Linked DNA regions of Homo sapiens: region 2 is linked to region 1. Evidence: fine-mapped expression QTL. Tissue or cell type: whole blood. Region 1 holds a variant in brackets; the other region holds the start of a gene. All regions are shown on one strand. Distances are between the middles of the regions.

Region 1 (8,000 bases):
GGTAGTTGTCCTAATACAGGCAATATTTAAAATCATAGAAATAAATGACACTTCAGGGTAAATGCATCAGAAGATGACCTAGGCCCCATCCTGAGGAACTCAACACTTAGAGACTGGATAGAAAAGAAAAATCAGGCAATGAAATAGGGAAAAAAAATCCTACCACCATGTTTCAAAAAGAAAGGAGTGGCCAGTCCAACAAATGCTGACTTATGTCCCTTGGATTTGGTAGAATGGAGATCACTGCTGATCAAGACAAGAAACATTTAAGTGTCGTGGACGCCAGACTGAGCTGGGCTGAGGAGTAAAAATGAAGCGCAAATATGGAGCAGACAGCTTAACACAGGTCTAGACAGGGCTGTCAAACATGGAAGAAACACTAATCGCTAACAGGATAGAGCATGGCAATAGCTTGAAATTGGTTTGAAAATCCAAGATAAAAAATTCCTCTGACATCGTGATCCAGACCTCTCAAACACACAAGCATGCTCGCAATAACTGCAATAAAAGCAATAATGCTTTCTAGTCTATTCCACTACGTTAGAGAAACGGCTGGTCACCACCCACTCAATCATTCACGGCTCGCTGACGGGTAGAAACCTGCAATGACAGGTCCACGCTAATCCAACAAGGGATGATTTGGGGAGGCAGAGATGGAGTTTGAAAAGAAGCAGGGAGCCCGAGGACCTGCGCGGCCAGAGCGCCAGATAGCCATAGGCGTGGAGACGGTGGGGCGCCCACAGCCCCGGGCCCGGAGCCCCCGCCCCGCAGCCCCACCCGCCGGCCCACCCCGCGTCACTCCCCCGCCGCCCTTACCTCCTCCAGATACTCGCCCAGCTGGGCCGCCACGTCCACCTCCCAGTTCTTGGTGAGGTCGCGGATGGGCTGCAAGAGGTGGGCGAAGCGCGCCTCCACGTCCTCCATGTCCGGGAGGGAACGGGCGGCAAAGGGACCGCAGGGCTGCCTTCCGAGGGGTACGGCGTCCTCAGCCCGCCACTAGTTCTGGCGCCATTTTGCTGTTCCCGCCCAGGAAAATGCGTAGGCGCGGCGTCGCGCGCATGTCTATGACGTAACGTGGGCAAAAGCCAGAGAGGCGAACCCCGGCGCCGCGCAGCGGGAGCTCACCGGAAGAGTCGCGGGGCGGGGTCGAAGCCTCCGGGAGGGGGGGGTGGGCGGAGCTTTGGGCTGCCACCAGTTTGGACGGGAGGGCTTTTGGGGCCGCCGTGGGTCGGGCGGGGCGGGGTGGGGCGGGGCCTGGAGCTGCCGCGGGCGAGCGGGCCGAGGAGGCGGGGCTTGGGGGCTGCCACGGGTTGGGGGGGCGGGGCGGTGAGGAGGCGGGGCCTGGGGCAGCCGCGGGCGGGCGGACGGGCCGAGGAGGCGGGGCTTGGGGCTGCCACGGGTTGGGCGGGCGGGGCGGTGAGGAGGCGGGGCCTGGGACTGCCGCGGGCGGGCGGGCGGGCCGAGGAGGCGGGGCTTGGGGCTGCCACGGATTGGGCGGGCGGGGCGGTGAGGAGGCGGGGCCTGGGGCTGCCGCGGGCGGGCGGACGCGGAGGGCGGGCCCTGCTCTAGCGGGCCGCGTAGCGGACATGGCGGGCTCCCGGCTCCCGCGGCAGCTCTTCCTCCAGGGCGTGGCGGCCGTCTTCATGTTTGCTTTCGCTTCCCTCTACACGCAAATCCCAGGTGAAGGCACCCAGGGTGGGACACCCCCAGCCTCGGCGCGGGACCCTATGTCCTCTTTTCTCTGTGCCCGGCACTCACGCAGTCCGGGGTTGGGAGTGAGGGCCAGGCCTTGGCGTGGGGTAGGGGGCGGCGGTTCGTGTCCTGCAGGCCGCTGTGGGGGTAGGAAGGTGTGCGGTGATCCATTTCCCGTAAGGCTCTGGACTCTGACCTGGGGTGGGGGACAGAACTCTGAGAGAGGTGGGAGAGAGGCTTCCTCCCAGACCTGGTGGGACAGGTAGGAGATCGGGCTGAGACCTGGAAGAGGGCAGTGGGCTCTGCTGGGTGGGAGGCCCTGACTCAGGTAGTTGAGCAGGCCTCTAGCCCTGGGACGGGGTTTTGACAGGTCCCGACCTGGGGGACGGGCTCTGGAGGGACTGCAGACTCTGACCTAGGGATGGAGGTATCCGCATGCTCTGACCTAGGCTGGGGGATCTGCAGGCCCTGACTCAGAGGTAGTCTAGTCTGCAAGGGCTGTCCAGGGCCTGGCCATGACATGCCCTCCCACAGGCCTGTATGGCCCCGAGGGCATCCTACCTGCAAGGAGGACGCTGCGGCCTCAGGGCAAGGGGCGCTGGCAGCAGCTGTGGGAGACCCCGACGCTGCTGTGGGAAGCGCCGAGACTGGGGCTGGACACGGCCCAGGGCCTGGAGCTGCTGAGCCTGCTGGGTGCACTAGTGGCCCTGGGAGCCCTGCTGCTGAGCCCACTGCGCCACCCTGTCATCTACTTGCTGCTTTGGGCCGCCTACCTGTCAGCCTGCCAGGCAAGTGGGACCTGTGACCAGCTCACTCTATCTCCAACCCCCACCACCCACCCCTGCCTCTACCTTACCTGAGTCCACAGACACACCCGCTCCCTGACAGCCCCTCTCTCCGCAGGTGGGCCAGGTGTTCCTTTATTTCCAGTGGTGAGTGACGGCTGGGCCTGGGGCTGTGGGAGGCTGGGTAGGGGGTGGGGGAGGGCTCTGCCCTTCCTGGGAGGACTTTCCGAGGGAAGCAGCTGTGTGGGGAGGGGCTCTTGGTGCTATTTGCTCTCCCCATAGGGACTCCCTGCTGCTAGAGACTGGCTTCCTGGCCGTGCTGGTGGCCCCGCTGAGGCCAGCCTCCCACCGCAAGGAGGCCCCCCAGGGCAGGCAGGCAGGGGCCCTGCCCCACGAAGACCTCCCCTTCTGGCTGGTGCGATGGCTGCTGTTCCGCCTCATGTTCGCCTCAGGCGTGGTCAAGCTGACCAGCCGCTGCCCTGCGTGGTGGGGGCTCACTGGTGAGGGGCCCGGTCTGGACCTGGGGTAGTCTGGGGGCTCGGCCAGCCCTGACTCCTGCCCTCGCCTGCAGCCCTCACCTACCACTACGAGACCCAGTGCCTGCCCACGCCCGCCGCCTGGTTCGCACACCACCTGCCGGTCTGGCTGCACAAGCTCAGCGTGGTGGCCACCTTCCTAATTGAGATCGCTGTGCCGCCCCTGTTCTTCGCCCCCATTCGACGCCTGCGCTTGGCTGCTTTCTACTCGCAGGTGGGTGAGGGCCGCAGCTGTCAGAGAGAGGCAGACAGGGCTCGGCCTTCAGCGCTGCTCAGCGTGCCCTGTTGGGGACAGCGTGGCTCCCGGGGACAGCTGGCAACCGCTGTTGGGAAGGCCTTGTAGCAGAGGGATGCACCCTGCAGGGTGGAGGTGGGTGCCTGCCACGGGGCCAGGCGTCAGTCTCCGGGAGCACTGAGAGCGGGCCGCCCCCAGGTGCTGCTGCAGGTCCTGATTATCATCACCGGCAACTACAACTTCTTCAACCTGATGACGCTGGTGCTTACCACTGCGCTG[C/T]TGGACGACCAGCACCTGGCTGCTGAGCCTGGCCACGGCAGCCGCAAGAAGACGGCCACCTGTGCGTGTCACTTGTCCAGCCCCCTGCCCTCCCAGGGGTTCTCCCCTCCAACACCCCCACAGGACTCCCACTCTAGCTGCACCCCAGCCCCCTGGCTGGGGACCCTCTGCTGACCCATGACTGTCCTGCCCCACAGCCTGGCCCAAGGCCCTGCTGGCCACCCTGTCGCTGCTGCTGGAACTAGCCGTCTACGGGCTTCTGGCCTATGGCACTGTGCACTACTTTGGCCTGGAGGTTGACTGGCAGCAGCGCACCATCCACTCCAGAACCAGTGAGTGCCGACCTGGGGGGGCCAGAGGGCAGGGGCGGACCAGTCCTCACACCCCCCTCCTCCACCAGCTTTCACCTTCCACCAGTTTTCTCAGTGGCTGAAGACACTGACGCTGCCCACTGTGTGGCTGGGTGTGGCCTCCCTGGTCTGGGAGCTGCTGAGTGCCCTGTGGAGGTACATGGCCCAGGAAGCAGGGAGGGGGCACAGGTGTGCAGGGCCGGCCTGACGACCTTGGGTCCTTGCCCACAGGTGGACCCAGGTGCGGGGCTGGCTACGGAAGCTCAGTGCTGTAGTCCAACTGTCCCTTGTGGGCACTGCGACCGTGGCCTTGTTCCTGATTAGCCTGGTGGGTAGCGCTGCAGGGCTGGGGGATGGGCTGGGGGCAGGGCAGCCCTGAGAACCTCCCACCTGTCTCCAGGTGCCGTACTCCTACGTGGAGCCCGGGACCCACGGGCGCCTCTGGACCGGGGCCCACCGCCTGTTTGGTGCCGTGGAGCACCTACAGCTGGCCAACTCCTACGGCCTCTTCCGCCGCATGACTGGGCTTGGTGGACGGCCTGAGGTGGTGCTGGAGGGCAGTTACGACGGCCACCACTGGACGGTGAGCCCTCCCAGGGCGGGCAGGGTGGTGGGGCCCAGGTCAGCGGGCCCAGCTGACCTCGGCCTGCCTGGCAGGAGATCGAGTTCATGTACAAGCCTGGGAACCTGAGCCGGCCGCCCCCGGTTGTGGTGCCCCACCAGCCACGCCTGGACTGGCAGATGTGGTTTGCAGCCCTGGGCCCACACACGCACAGCCCGTGGTTCACAAGCCTGGTCTTGCGCCTGCTGCAGGGCAAGGAGCCAGGTGCGGAGCGGGCTTGGGGGGTGTGGAGTGGGCTGGGGTGGAGCGGGGTGGGGAGGGGAGGGGCAGGGCGGGTACTGTGGGGGCCACGCTGATGCCTCTCGCTGCAGTGATCCGCCTTGTCCAGAGCCAAGTGGCCAGGTATCCCTTCCACAAGCAGCCGCCCACCTACGTCCGAGCCCAGCGCTACAAGTACTGGTTCTCCCAGCCTGGGGAGCAGGGGTAAGGCTGGGCACCGGGTGGGGTGTGGAGCCCGGGGTGCAGGGGTAAGGCCGGGCACCGGGGGGTGTGGAGCCCGGGGTGCAGGGGTAAGGCCGGGCACCGGGGGGGGGTGTGGAGCCCGGGGTGCAGGGGTAAGGCCGGGCACTGGGGGGGGTGTGGAGCCCGGGGTGCAGGGGTAAGGCCGGGCACCGGGGTGGGGTGTGGAGCCTGGGGTGCAGGGGTAAGGCCGGGCACTGGGGGGGGTGTGGAGCCCGGGGTGCAGGGGTAAGGCCGGGCACCGGGTGGGGTGTGGAGCCCGGGGTGCAGGGGTAAGGCCGGGCACCAGGGGGGGATGTGGAGCGTGAGGAGCTGAGGAGCAGGGGTAAGGCTGGGCACTGGCGATGGGGTATGGAGCCCGGGGTGCCTCCAGCTTCTGAACATCGGGTCCTGCTGCAGCCAGTGGTGGCGGCGCCAGTGGGTGGAGGAGTTCTTCCCATCCGTGTCCCTGGGGGACCCCACGCTGGAGACGCTGCTCAGGCAGTTTGGACTACAGGTAAGGGGGTGTCAGCCAGGCTGGGGGAGGTGGCAGGGGTGACCCCAGCCTCCCGGGGTAAACCCAGTAAGCACTTCCCCAACCTCCCTCCCTCCCTCCCTCCCACAGGAGAAAAGCCCACCTCGCACCCGCAGCGCCAACAGCACCCTGGCCCAGGCCCTCCACTGGACTCGCTCTCAGCTGTCTCCCCTGGAGGCCCCCGCCCTGCTCTGGGGGCTCCTCATGGCCGTGGGGGCTGTCAGATTTGTGCAAGCCCTGCTAGCACCCTGTTCTCTCCGGTCCTCCCCGCTGGCACCAGTCAGCGGGGAGAAGCGCAGGCCAGCCTCCCAGAAAGACTCCGGAGCTGCCTCCGAACAGGCCACCGCAGCCCCCAACCCCTGCTCCAGTAGTTCGAGGACCACCCGGCGAAAGAAGTAGCTGTGTTCTCCCAGCTGCACGTCCTGAGAGGGCCAGGTCGCCGGGAGTGCTCTGGCCTCCGGCAGGACAGGACCCAGCCACTGTGCCTTAGCTGACCCTGCAGGGCCAGGCACAGGTTGGGGGGCTGCCCCTGGGGTTTGCAGGGTGCTGCATTGAGGGCTCCAGGCCCCACCCCCACGCCAGCCATGCCCCTCCCCAGGACTCCCACTATTGCCTCTGTGATTGGCCCAGGAGGAAAACACGACCAAGCTCAAGACCCTTCCCCTGCCCTGGGCTGTGGGGGTCTGAGTCTAGAGCCCCCAACCCTAGGCCCCGTGCCAGAGGGGAAGAGGCTGACTCCCAGGGGAAGAGGGGAAGCACTGTCATCTTCCACGTCATCTTCACACCAGCCCATCCTGCCCTTTAGATCTGGGCACCAATAAAGGCGTCTTTTGTGCTTGGCTGTGTGCCTGGTGCTGCTTTCCCAGGAGGCATGAGGATGGGATTGTCTCCCCTGCCCCAGGCAGTGGGCCGCCCAGAGCACAGTCAGGCTCCGCCACGGCGTGGCTCCCTGGGCACCCTCCTGCCCCGTCCTCAGCATTCTCTCTGAAGAGGCCTGGCTTGGTGTTGCCCACTGCCTGATCACAGAGGAGCCTCAGGCCTGGCACAGCCCGGTGGACCTGTCAGCTCCACACTCCAAGGTCGGTGGTGGAGCCGGTCCCTCACTTCCCTCCTGCTCCCACTTCTTGGCCTCAGGAAAGGACGGAAGGGCCAGAGTGGGCAAGGGGAGAAGGAGAGATGAGGTGGGCAGGTTAGAAGAGGCTCCTCTGCAGAGTGAGGCCAGGGGGAGGGTAGCTGGAGGCCCTGGGTTGGGACGGAGGAGGGAAGGTGCATCTGATGCCCCTGGCCTCCATCCTGGGAAGAGAACAGCAGCAGAGACAGCAGTCAGGGCACCGTCCAGGTTTCCATTTGGGGTCAGGTTATCAATCAGAGGTCACTGCCCACCCTGGAAACTCACAGCACAGCTTCCTCTGCCTCTGGCCCGTCCTCTTGGTACAGCCCCTGCCTCCTGGTCTCCTGCCAGACCCCTGGGCAGCTCCCAATGTACCCAGCTCCCTCATGTCACTGACCTCCATCTGGCCCACCCAGGCAGAGCCCTGTGCTCAAACACAGCCTGTGGCGTGAACTCTCAGATGTCTTCAAGGGGCTCCTATACATGGAATAAACAATCGAGAAGTCAGCCTTGGCTTAATAATAGGCTGGGCGCTGTGGCTCATGGCTGTAATCCCAGCACTTTGAGTGGCCGAGGTGGGTGGATCACCTGAGGTCAGGAGTTCGAGACCAGCCTGGCCAACATGGTGAAACCCAATCTCTACTAAAAATACAAAAATTAGCTGGGCATGGTGTCGGGTGCCTGTAATGCCAGCTACTCCACAGGCTGAGGCAGGAAAATCGCTTGAACCTGGGAGGCAGAGGTTGCAGGGAGCCGAGATCATGCCACTGCACTTCAGCCTAGACAACAGAGTGAGACTCCATCTCAAAAAAAAAAAGTAATATGTTTAAAACTAAAAAACCTGTTCCTAGGCTTCTTGGCTTTCTAGACAGGGTCTCACTCTGTTGCCCAGGCTGGAGCACAGTGGTGCAGTTGTGGCTCACTGCAGTCTCAGACTCCTGAGCTCAAATGATTCTCCTGCCTCAGGCTGCCATCACCACCCACACTCCCCTTGTTGCCCAGGCTGATGTTCCTGAGTTTTTTTTTTTTTGAGACGGAGTCTCGCTCTGTCACCCAGTCTGAAGTGCAGTGGCAGGATCTCGGCTCACTGCAAGCTCCACTTCCCGGGTTCGCGCCATTCTCCTGCCTCAGCCTCTCTGAGTAGCTGGGACTACAGGCGCCCGCCACCACACCTGGCTAATTTTTTGTATTTTTTTTTTAGTAGAGACGGGGTTTCACCATGTTAGCCAGGATGGTCTCGATCTCCTGACCTCGTGATCCGCCTGCCTCGGCCTCCCAAAGTGCTGGGATTACAGGTGTGAGCCACCGCGCCCGGCCTGATGTTCCTAAGCTTTCAAGCTCACTTGATGAATGCGTTCTGTGTTTTGTTTTGTGTAGCAGCTCTCTTGGTAAGCCACGTGCTACACAATTCACCCGT
Region 2 (8,000 bases), 24 kb before region 1:
GATGCCCCCGGCCGAATAAATCCCTTCCTTCTTTAACCTGGTGTCTGAGGAGTTTTGTCTGCGGCTCTTCCTGCTACAGTTTGTAACCAGATTATTTCTGACAAGTTTTGATCCAGGGTTTTTTTTTAAAGATTTGTCAATTTCAAAATATTTGTTTGCTCCTGCTTCCTGTTCTCTCTCTCCCTTTTTTTTTCTTTTTTTAAGACAAGGTCTCACTCTGTCACCCAGGCCGGAGTCTAGTGGTGGGATCACTGCTCACTGCAGGATCCAACTCCCAGACTCAACAGATCCTGCCGACTCAGCCACCGACCCCATAGCTGGGAATACAGATGTACATCATCACACCCAGCTAATTTTTAAAGTTTTTTGTCGAGATGGGTCTCACTGTATTGCCCAGGCTGAGTTTTCTTCTTCTTTTTTTTACATTTTGTTTGCCTAGAATTGTATTTGATTGTAATCAAATCATGTGTCACATCTTTTTTTCAATTTGTGTGATTATTTTGTGGCCCAATACATGATTTTTTTTGCGAATATTTCATGGACTTAAATAGATAAGTCCTCTCTCTACACATAATTAAATGGAGTGTGTGCTTTGCATTATTCAGTTCCTTTATTCCCATCCTTGCTTTTGTCTGCAGATTTGTCCTATTCCAGAATGGGTATACTGAAACTTGGGTAAGGGTGAGGCCAGCGTTCTGGGTGGCCCAGGCTACTATCCCACCCGTGCCACAGAATCCACACAGAGGCCCAGCGGCGGCACTGGGTGGTGGGGAAGGGGGAGGCGGACCCAGGTTGGGGGGGCAGGCAGTCAGTGCGGTTGCCAGGAAGCGGGAAAGGGCCACAATGGGGTCTGGGAGGTGGGCGGGGCGGAGCGGGGATGTCCAGCCACGTCGCTTTGTTTTCCCACGCTAGGAGCTACCACAACAGGTCAGTGCACCTCGGGGCACCGGGTCCCCCACGCAGGCCCTTCCCGGGGCACCCTTTCCCAACAGCACGAAAATCTCCTGCCCCCACCCCACCCCCAGGTGATTCCCTTCACCAAGTCTGGGTCTAGACTTGGCCCCCGCGAGTTCACGTCCCTGCCTAATGCGCCTGGAGTCCGGGTGATGGCCCTGGATCCGCTCCCGGCCCCAAGCTCCACACAGCCGGGAAGGAAGCTCGCGTTTGTTTTGCTGGCGCCAGGGATACGGTCCAGGCCCCGCCCCGCCCCGCGCTGATCCCAGGGTAGTGGGAAAGTGCGCTCCCCAAGAATTTGCGGTGCAGGGGCCGCGGCCACCGCCTTCTGTCCGCAGGTGCTGCGAGCCGTAAGCGCCCCCCACCCGCGCTATGGGCTCGGACGCCTGGGTGGGCCTTTGGCGGCCACACCGGCCCCGCGGCCCCATCGCGGCGCACTACGGAGGCCCCGGGCCCAAATACAAGCTGCCGCCCAACACCGGTAGAAGGGGCAGGCCCCGGGATTGAGGGGTGGGACGGCGCCTGGGGGAGGGAAGGGGAAGAGACCAGGGAGGCCTGCGCTCGGGGCTGAACCGTGCCTGCTAGAGGGGAGAGGGGGTCTGTGCCGGGGGAGGGTCCGTGTTGCAGATGGGGCTTGGGGCTGGGCCCGGCCAGACGCTAACTCGGATGCTCCCAGGCTACGCCCTGCATGACCCGTCGCGGCCGCGCGCCCCCGCCTTCACCTTCGGCGCGCGCTTCCCCACGCAGCAGACGACGTGCGGCCCCGGGCCAGGCCACCTGGTGCCCGCTCGCATGACCGTGCGCGGCACCGACGGCGCCCCCGCCTACTCCATCTACGGCCGCCCACGCCGCTCAGCGCCCTTCCTCACTCCGGGACCTGGTCAGGACCCCCGGGCCCCTGGCCACCCCAACGCCGAACTGCCTCCAGGGAGGCCCACCTGGGAACCCCCGACCTGAACCCCGAGTCCCCCTCGGATACCCTAACACCGCATATTCGGTACCCCCATATCCGGATCTCAAATCCCAAACCCCGAACCCCACGGGGCTTTGATAAATCGTGGCTCAGACTCCCCACTAGTCCCAGGACCCCATCTCGGGTACCCACCAGGCTCCCACGCAGTTCTAGCCCCCCACACCCTTGATCCGCCCCGCAGGCAGGTACTTCCCGGAGCGAGCGGGGAACGCGACGTACCCCAGTGCGCCTCGGCACACCATTGCTCCCCGAAACTGGGGTGTCCAGGCGGAACAGCAGAGCCCAGGTGAGGTCAGAACGGCCCATCCCAGAACTGTGGGCCTTCCCACTCGAGACCGGGGACCGCCCTCCGGGAGCTGGGACCACCCTGCGCCTGTCCGCGGAGACCCACTACCCCCGAGCCCTGCCTCCTCCCCAGGTCCCGCGGCCTATACGGTGCCCTCGCTCTTGGGTCCGCGCGTCATCGGCAAAGTCTCCGCCCCAACTTGCTCCATCTACGGCCGCAGAGCGGCTGGCAGTTTCTTCGAGGACCTCAGCAAGGTGGGGGAGGGGCCGGGGCGGACGCAGGGGGTCCCTGGTCCGCGGCAGTGGAGGCGGCAGCCAGCACCCTCTGCCCTCTCGCAGACCCCGGGCCCCTGCGCCTATCAGGTCGTGAGTCCAGGGGTCTACAAGTCCCGGGCCCCCCAGTTCACGATTCTGGCGCGGACTTCGCTCCCCCAAGACAACACTCGGAAGCCAGGGCCCGCGGCCTACAACGTGGATCAGGTGGCCTGGAGCCCAGGGTCAAGGGTCAGAGTCAGGAGAGTGGGGAGGGCCTGAGGTCGGAGTGATGGGATCAGAGTCCCCGGGGGTCCAGGGGTCCCGGCGCGGAGAGGATGCCGGCCCCGCGAGGTCAGCGGTGTCTCCGGGCCCGCAGCACCGGAAGCCCCGCGGCTGGAGTTTCGGGATCCGGCACTCGGACTACCTGGCCCCGCTGGTGACCGACGCGGACAACTGACCCGCCAGGCGGGAGCGGCCCCACACGTGTTTGCTTAAAGTCTGCGAGTCCGCATCGTGTCCGCCTCTCTCTCTCTCTCTCTGCGCGTCCTGGCGCAAGGCCTGGGGTGGAGCCACGGCTGGGGCCGTGTCCCAACTCCGAACCCAGCGGGGCGGGGCCCGAGCGTCGGGCGAGGCCGGGACCCCAGCGCTGCGCCGCGTCCGAACGTCGAGACCCCACCGAGGGCGGGAGGGGGACTCTCGGGAGCCACAGACGCCCGAGACCCACGCCGGGCGGGACCGGCCAGGGATCACCCCCGCCGACGGCCCCGGGCCCCGACGGCCCGGAAGTTCCGCGTGTCCGGGGGCACCGGGGGATTGGCCGGGGCGCGGCGTGCAAGGCTTCCCGGGGGCGGCGACTGCCGAGCTCCGCCCTCCAGGCGGCCCCACCCGCCTGCCGTCCTGGGGCGCCGCCGCCCCGCCGCCGGCAGTGGACCGCTGTGCGCGAACCCTGAACCCTACGGTCCCGACCCGCGGGCGAGGCCGGGTACCTGGGCTGGGATCCGGAGCAAGCGGGCGAGGGCAGCGCCCTAAGCAGGTACGGGCGGGGCTCAAGTCGCGAGGCGGGGAAGCGGGAGGCAGACACGGACGAGGGCGACACAGACACGGGACCGAGGGGCGGACACCGGAGAGACACGGGAAAGGGGTCGGGACAGGAGCACGTGGCTCAGACACCGACGCCGGGAGGCCGCAGACCCCGGACGTGTCAGGCATCCCCGCAGGCCCGGAGCGATGGCAGCCTTGATGACCCCGGGAACCGGGGCCCCACCCGCGCCTGGTGACTTCTCCGGGGAAGGGAGCCAGGGACTTCCCGACCCTTCGCCAGAGCCCAAGCAGCTCCCGGAGCTGATCCGCATGAAGCGAGACGGAGGCCGCCTGAGCGAAGCGGACATCAGGGGCTTCGTGGCCGCTGTGGTGAATGGGAGCGCGCAGGGCGCACAGATCGGTGCGTGGGGAGGGTTGGGCGTTCCTGACCCCGACTGGGAGGTCAGCCCGAGAGACTTTGGGTCCCTGGGGGTGCGACGGTGCCCCACTACCAGCACCGGCCCCAGGGTGCCCCACCGCTGTGGGCTGCCACCCTCACGCGTACCCCCACATACCAGGGGCCATGCTGATGGCCATCCGACTTCGGGGCATGGATCTGGAGGAGACCTCGGTGCTGACCCAGGCCCTGGCTCAGTCGGGACAGCAGCTGGAGTGGCCAGAGGCCTGGCGCCAGCAGCTTGTGGACAAGCATTCCACAGGGGGTGTGGGTGACAAGGTCAGCCTGGTCCTCGCACCTGCCCTGGCGGCATGTGGCTGCAAGGTTAGAAACCACCTCCTTTCCAGACGGGAGCCTATACCGCACATGCAGCAACCAGTCCATCCACAGGCAGCTCCCAACCTCAAGCCTGGCCCAAAGCCTCCAAGACCCTACCAAGGCTTCTCCCCACCCTGCTCCCCAGCACAGTTCTCCCCACCCCGTTCCCCAGCACAGCGCTTGGGGCCCCTCTGGCTCCAGACCAGGCCCCTTGGAGCAGGAAAAAGATCCACTGATGGAATTCAGACCCCTTTCCCCTTGGGTCCCCAGACAGCTCCCCCAAGGGAGGAGCTGAGGACTTTCCTCCCTCTGCCCCAAGCCTTGTTTCCCCAAGGACAGGTACCAACCTCCTCCCCTACTGACACTTCTCAACCAAGAAAACTTCCTTTCCATTCCCTCACCAGCTGGGCACCCCTATAGCTGCTTAAATACTTTCCAAATCCAGCTGCACTCCTAGCCAGGGAAGGTGAAGGGATGCACAGAGGTGGGGGAGGGGTACTGTGCAGGGTACTCAGCATCCCTGACCACCAGGTGCCAATGATCAGCGGACGTGGTCTGGGGCACACAGGAGGCACCTTGGATAAGCTGGAGTCTATTCCTGGATTCAATGTCATCCAGAGCCCAGAGCAGGTACGGGGCGCCACGGATCAGTCATTAATCCAGGTTGATGATGGAGACCCTGGCCAGAATCACTAAAAGATCACTGGTGGATCATTAGGGTCACTAATGAGAACACTGGTCAAGGTTACTCATGAGTCACTGGGCCTGGGCCGAAATCATCAGTGGAACTTTGATTAGGATCATAAAATGGGAAGTTGGTCAAAATCACAGATGGCTGGCGGGGCACGGTGGCTCACACCTGTAGTCCTAGCACTTGGGGAGGCCGAAGAGGGCAGATCCCTTGAACCCAGGAGTTCAAAACCAGCCTGGATAACACGGCAAAACCCCATCTCTACAAAATAGTTCGCTGCGTGTGGTGGTGCACGCATGTGGTTCCAGCTACTCAGGAGGCTGAGGCAGGAGGATCACTTGAGCCTGGGAGGTCTAGGCTGCAGTGAGCCGGGACGATGCCACTGCACTCCAGCCTGGGCAACAGAGTGAGACCCTGTCCCAGCACTCTGGGAGGCAGAGGAGCCCAGTTGGAGATCAGCCTGGGTAATATAGTGAAACTTGATCTCTACAAAAAAAAGAAGAAAAAAAAAAGCCGCGTGTGGTGGTGCGCACCTGTAGTCCCAGCTACTGGGAAGCTGAGGTGGGAGGATCACTTAAGCCCAGGAGGCAGAGGTCACAATGAGCCGAAATTGTGCCAACTGCACTCCAGCCTGGGCAACAGAGGAAGACTCTTCACAGAAAAAAAAAAAAAAAAAAAAAAAGCTGCTAAGTCATTTACCATAAGTCACTGAGAACAGGGGATGTCTGACCAGATGCAAGTGCTGCTGGACCAGGCGGGCTGCTGTATCGTGGGTCAGAGTGAGCAGCTGGTTCCTGCGGACGGAATCCTATATGCAGCCAGAGATGTGACAGCCACCGTGGACAGCCTGCCACTCATCACAGGTGACCTGACTCCATGGCCTGCTTCTGCATGTTCACAGGCTCCTGACCTCCAAACTCAAGTCAAGGGCCTCTCGTTAGGAGTTACCCGTCACCTGACCGTGTGCCCCCCTACCCCCATCACAAGATGCCTGACCACCACCATGTGGGGTGGCCTGATACTCAACCCACCAGGTGCTGCCACCCCCATAATAAGGGACTTGACCCTCAATGCTCAGGGCCCCTGACCCCAAAGTCGGCATCCCCGAACTCTCCCAAGAAGCTCCAGGTTCTCCATTGTCTCCAACCTCCTCTGCCTCCCCCAAAGCCTCCATTCTCAGTAAGAAACTCGTGGAGGGGCTGTCCGCTCTGGTGGTGGACGTTAAGTTCGGAGGGGCCGCCGTCTTCCCCAACCAGGAGCAGGCCCGGGAGCTGGCAAAGACGCTGGTGAGCGGTGTGGCCTTTCCCTGGGCAAGCGTCTTGATGCGGGCCCAGCCTACCCTTCACCCCTCCCGTCCCCACTGCCTCCCTCCACTCAGCAGTCCTGCCTAACCCCAGTCCCACCCTCTTCTGCCCGAAGTCCCTCCCTCCTTCACGGCTTCCTAACCTGCTGTGACTTTAGAGGTCAAGGCTGGCCCGGCCTGGACCTGGGGAAGCCCTCTGTGGCGTTCCTGCCCCAGACCAAGTACAAGTTCCTCCTGGCCCCATGGCGAGGTGTCGCACTTCACTCGTGTCTCTTCCCCACCCCAATCCTTCCCTGACTTCATGCTGGGGGGCTGGCAACCCAGGGTGCAGCAGGGGCTGGAGTTCGACCAAGAACCGGCTGCAGAAGGCCCCGCCATGGGGGGTCCACGCTGAGCCTCCTCTCCGCAGGTTGGCGTGGGAGCCAGCCTAGGGCTTCGGGTCGCGGCAGCGCTGACCGCCATGGACAAGCCCCTGGGTCGCTGCGTGGGCCACGCCCTGGAGGTGGAGGAGGCGCTGCTCTGCATGGACGGCGCAGGCCCGCCAGACTTAAGGGACCTGGTCACCACGCTCGGTGAGGGGGACGGGGTGTAGGGGAGCGGAGGCGGCGGGGGGTGCTTCCCGCTGGGGCCGCCCCGACCCGGCCGCGCCTAAGACCCGTCCCCGCCCGCAGGGGGCGCCCTGCTCTGGCTCAGCGGACACGCGGGGACTCAGGCCCAGGGCGCTGCCCGGGTGGCCGCGGCGCTGGACGACGGCTCGGCCCTTGGCCGCTTCGAGCGGATGCTGGCGGCGCAGGGCGTGGATCCCGGTCTGGCCCGAGCCCTGTGCTCGGGAAGTCCCGCAGAACGCCGGCAGCTGCTGCCTCGCGCCCGGGAGCAGGAGGAGCTGCTGGCGCCCGCAGATGGTGAGCGTCGGGGGAGTCCCCGTCCTTCCGCCTCCGCCATCCCCTTCCCTTCCCGAGGCCCCGCCCCTTCCCGAGCCCGCGCCTCTCAGCCCCTCTCCCCGCAGGCACCGTGGAGCTGGTCCGGGCGCTGCCGCTGGCGCTGGTGCTGCACGAGCTCGGGGCCGGGCGCAGCCGCGCTGGGGAGCCGCTCCGCCTGGGGGTGGGCGCAGAGCTGCTGGTCGACGTGGGTCAGAGGCTGCGCCGTGGTGAGCGCCGCCCCCGCCCTGCTGGCCCCGCACCCCCGCCCAGCTCCGGCCGCGCGGCCTCTAACAGCCCCTCGCTCTGCAGGGACCCCCTGGCTCCGCGTGCACCGGGACGGCCCCGCGCTCAGCGGCCCGCAGAGCCGCGCCCTGCAGGAGGCGCTCGTACTCTCCGACCGCGCGCCATTCGCCGCCCCCTCGCCCTTCGCAGAGCTCGTTCTGCCGCCGCAGCAATAAAGCTCCTTTGCCGCGAAACCTTGTCAGTGCTTGGGCGGGAGCGGAAGGATCCAGGGCTGCGGAGGCGGGGGCCGTCTCGATGAACACGTGACCCCCGGCGGGCTCCGCCTTCCGCGCACGCGCTGAGAGCCTGTCAGCGGCTGCGCCCGTGTGCGCATGCGCAGCTCCGGGGACGCCTGCGCCCTGCCTGTGAGCGTGTGGCGCCCGCTTTCCCTGAGCCGGCGGGGCAGAGCGCAGGGAGCTGGAGGTCGGCGCTTCCTCTCGTGCTTGGTCCACTGACGCGCGGCCCCGCCGCGAGGTGCGGACGCCGGGGCTGGGAGGGGAGGAGGTAGCCCTGAGGACTCGCTGGACTCCGGGGTAGTTTCC

What was found. PIP is the estimated chance that this variant, and not a neighbour inherited with it, causes the effect.
Region 2: it holds the start of TYMP, and the variant in region 1 is fine-mapped to the expression of TYMP in whole blood (TOPMed, PIP above 0.99).

The regions. Positions count from the first base shown.
Region 1 is chr22:50,501,262-50,509,261 of GRCh38, reverse strand. LMF2 (lipase maturation factor 2) reads left to right here and starts at 1,560. Exons shown (of 14, transcript NM_033200.3): 1 at 1,560-1,680; 2 at 2,227-2,480; 3 at 2,596-2,624; 4 at 2,760-2,977; 5 at 3,049-3,227; 6 at 3,447-3,588; 7 at 3,725-3,859; 8 at 3,928-4,033; 9 at 4,109-4,205; 10 at 4,278-4,460; 11 at 4,535-4,703; 12 at 4,811-4,922; 13 at 5,358-5,454; 14 at 5,563-6,313. The coding sequence starts at 1,587. The coding sequence ends at 5,871. NCAPH2 (non-SMC condensin II complex subunit H2) reads right to left here and starts at 1,038. Exons shown (of 20, transcript NM_152299.4): 1 at 817-1,038. The coding sequence starts at 924. The variant C/T (reference allele first, on the strand shown) is at 3,528.
Region 2 is chr22:50,525,404-50,533,403 of GRCh38, reverse strand. TYMP (thymidine phosphorylase) reads left to right here and starts at 3,392. Exons shown (of 10, transcript NM_001953.5): 1 at 3,392-3,500; 2 at 3,685-3,908; 3 at 4,066-4,268; 4 at 4,794-4,892; 5 at 5,687-5,816; 6 at 6,121-6,239; 7 at 6,666-6,828; 8 at 6,928-7,158; 9 at 7,263-7,403; 10 at 7,486-7,652. The coding sequence starts at 3,695. The coding sequence ends at 7,634. It overlaps SCO2 (synthesis of cytochrome C oxidase 2), which reads left to right and starts at 7,806. Exons shown (of 2, transcript NM_005138.3): 1 at 7,806-7,932. It overlaps CIMAP1B (ciliary microtubule associated protein 1B), which reads left to right and starts at 906. Exons shown (of 7, transcript NM_001014440.4): 1 at 906-927; 2 at 1,293-1,435; 3 at 1,631-1,834; 4 at 2,109-2,213; 5 at 2,346-2,467; 6 at 2,552-2,692; 7 at 2,844-2,978. The coding sequence starts at 1,327. The coding sequence ends at 2,924.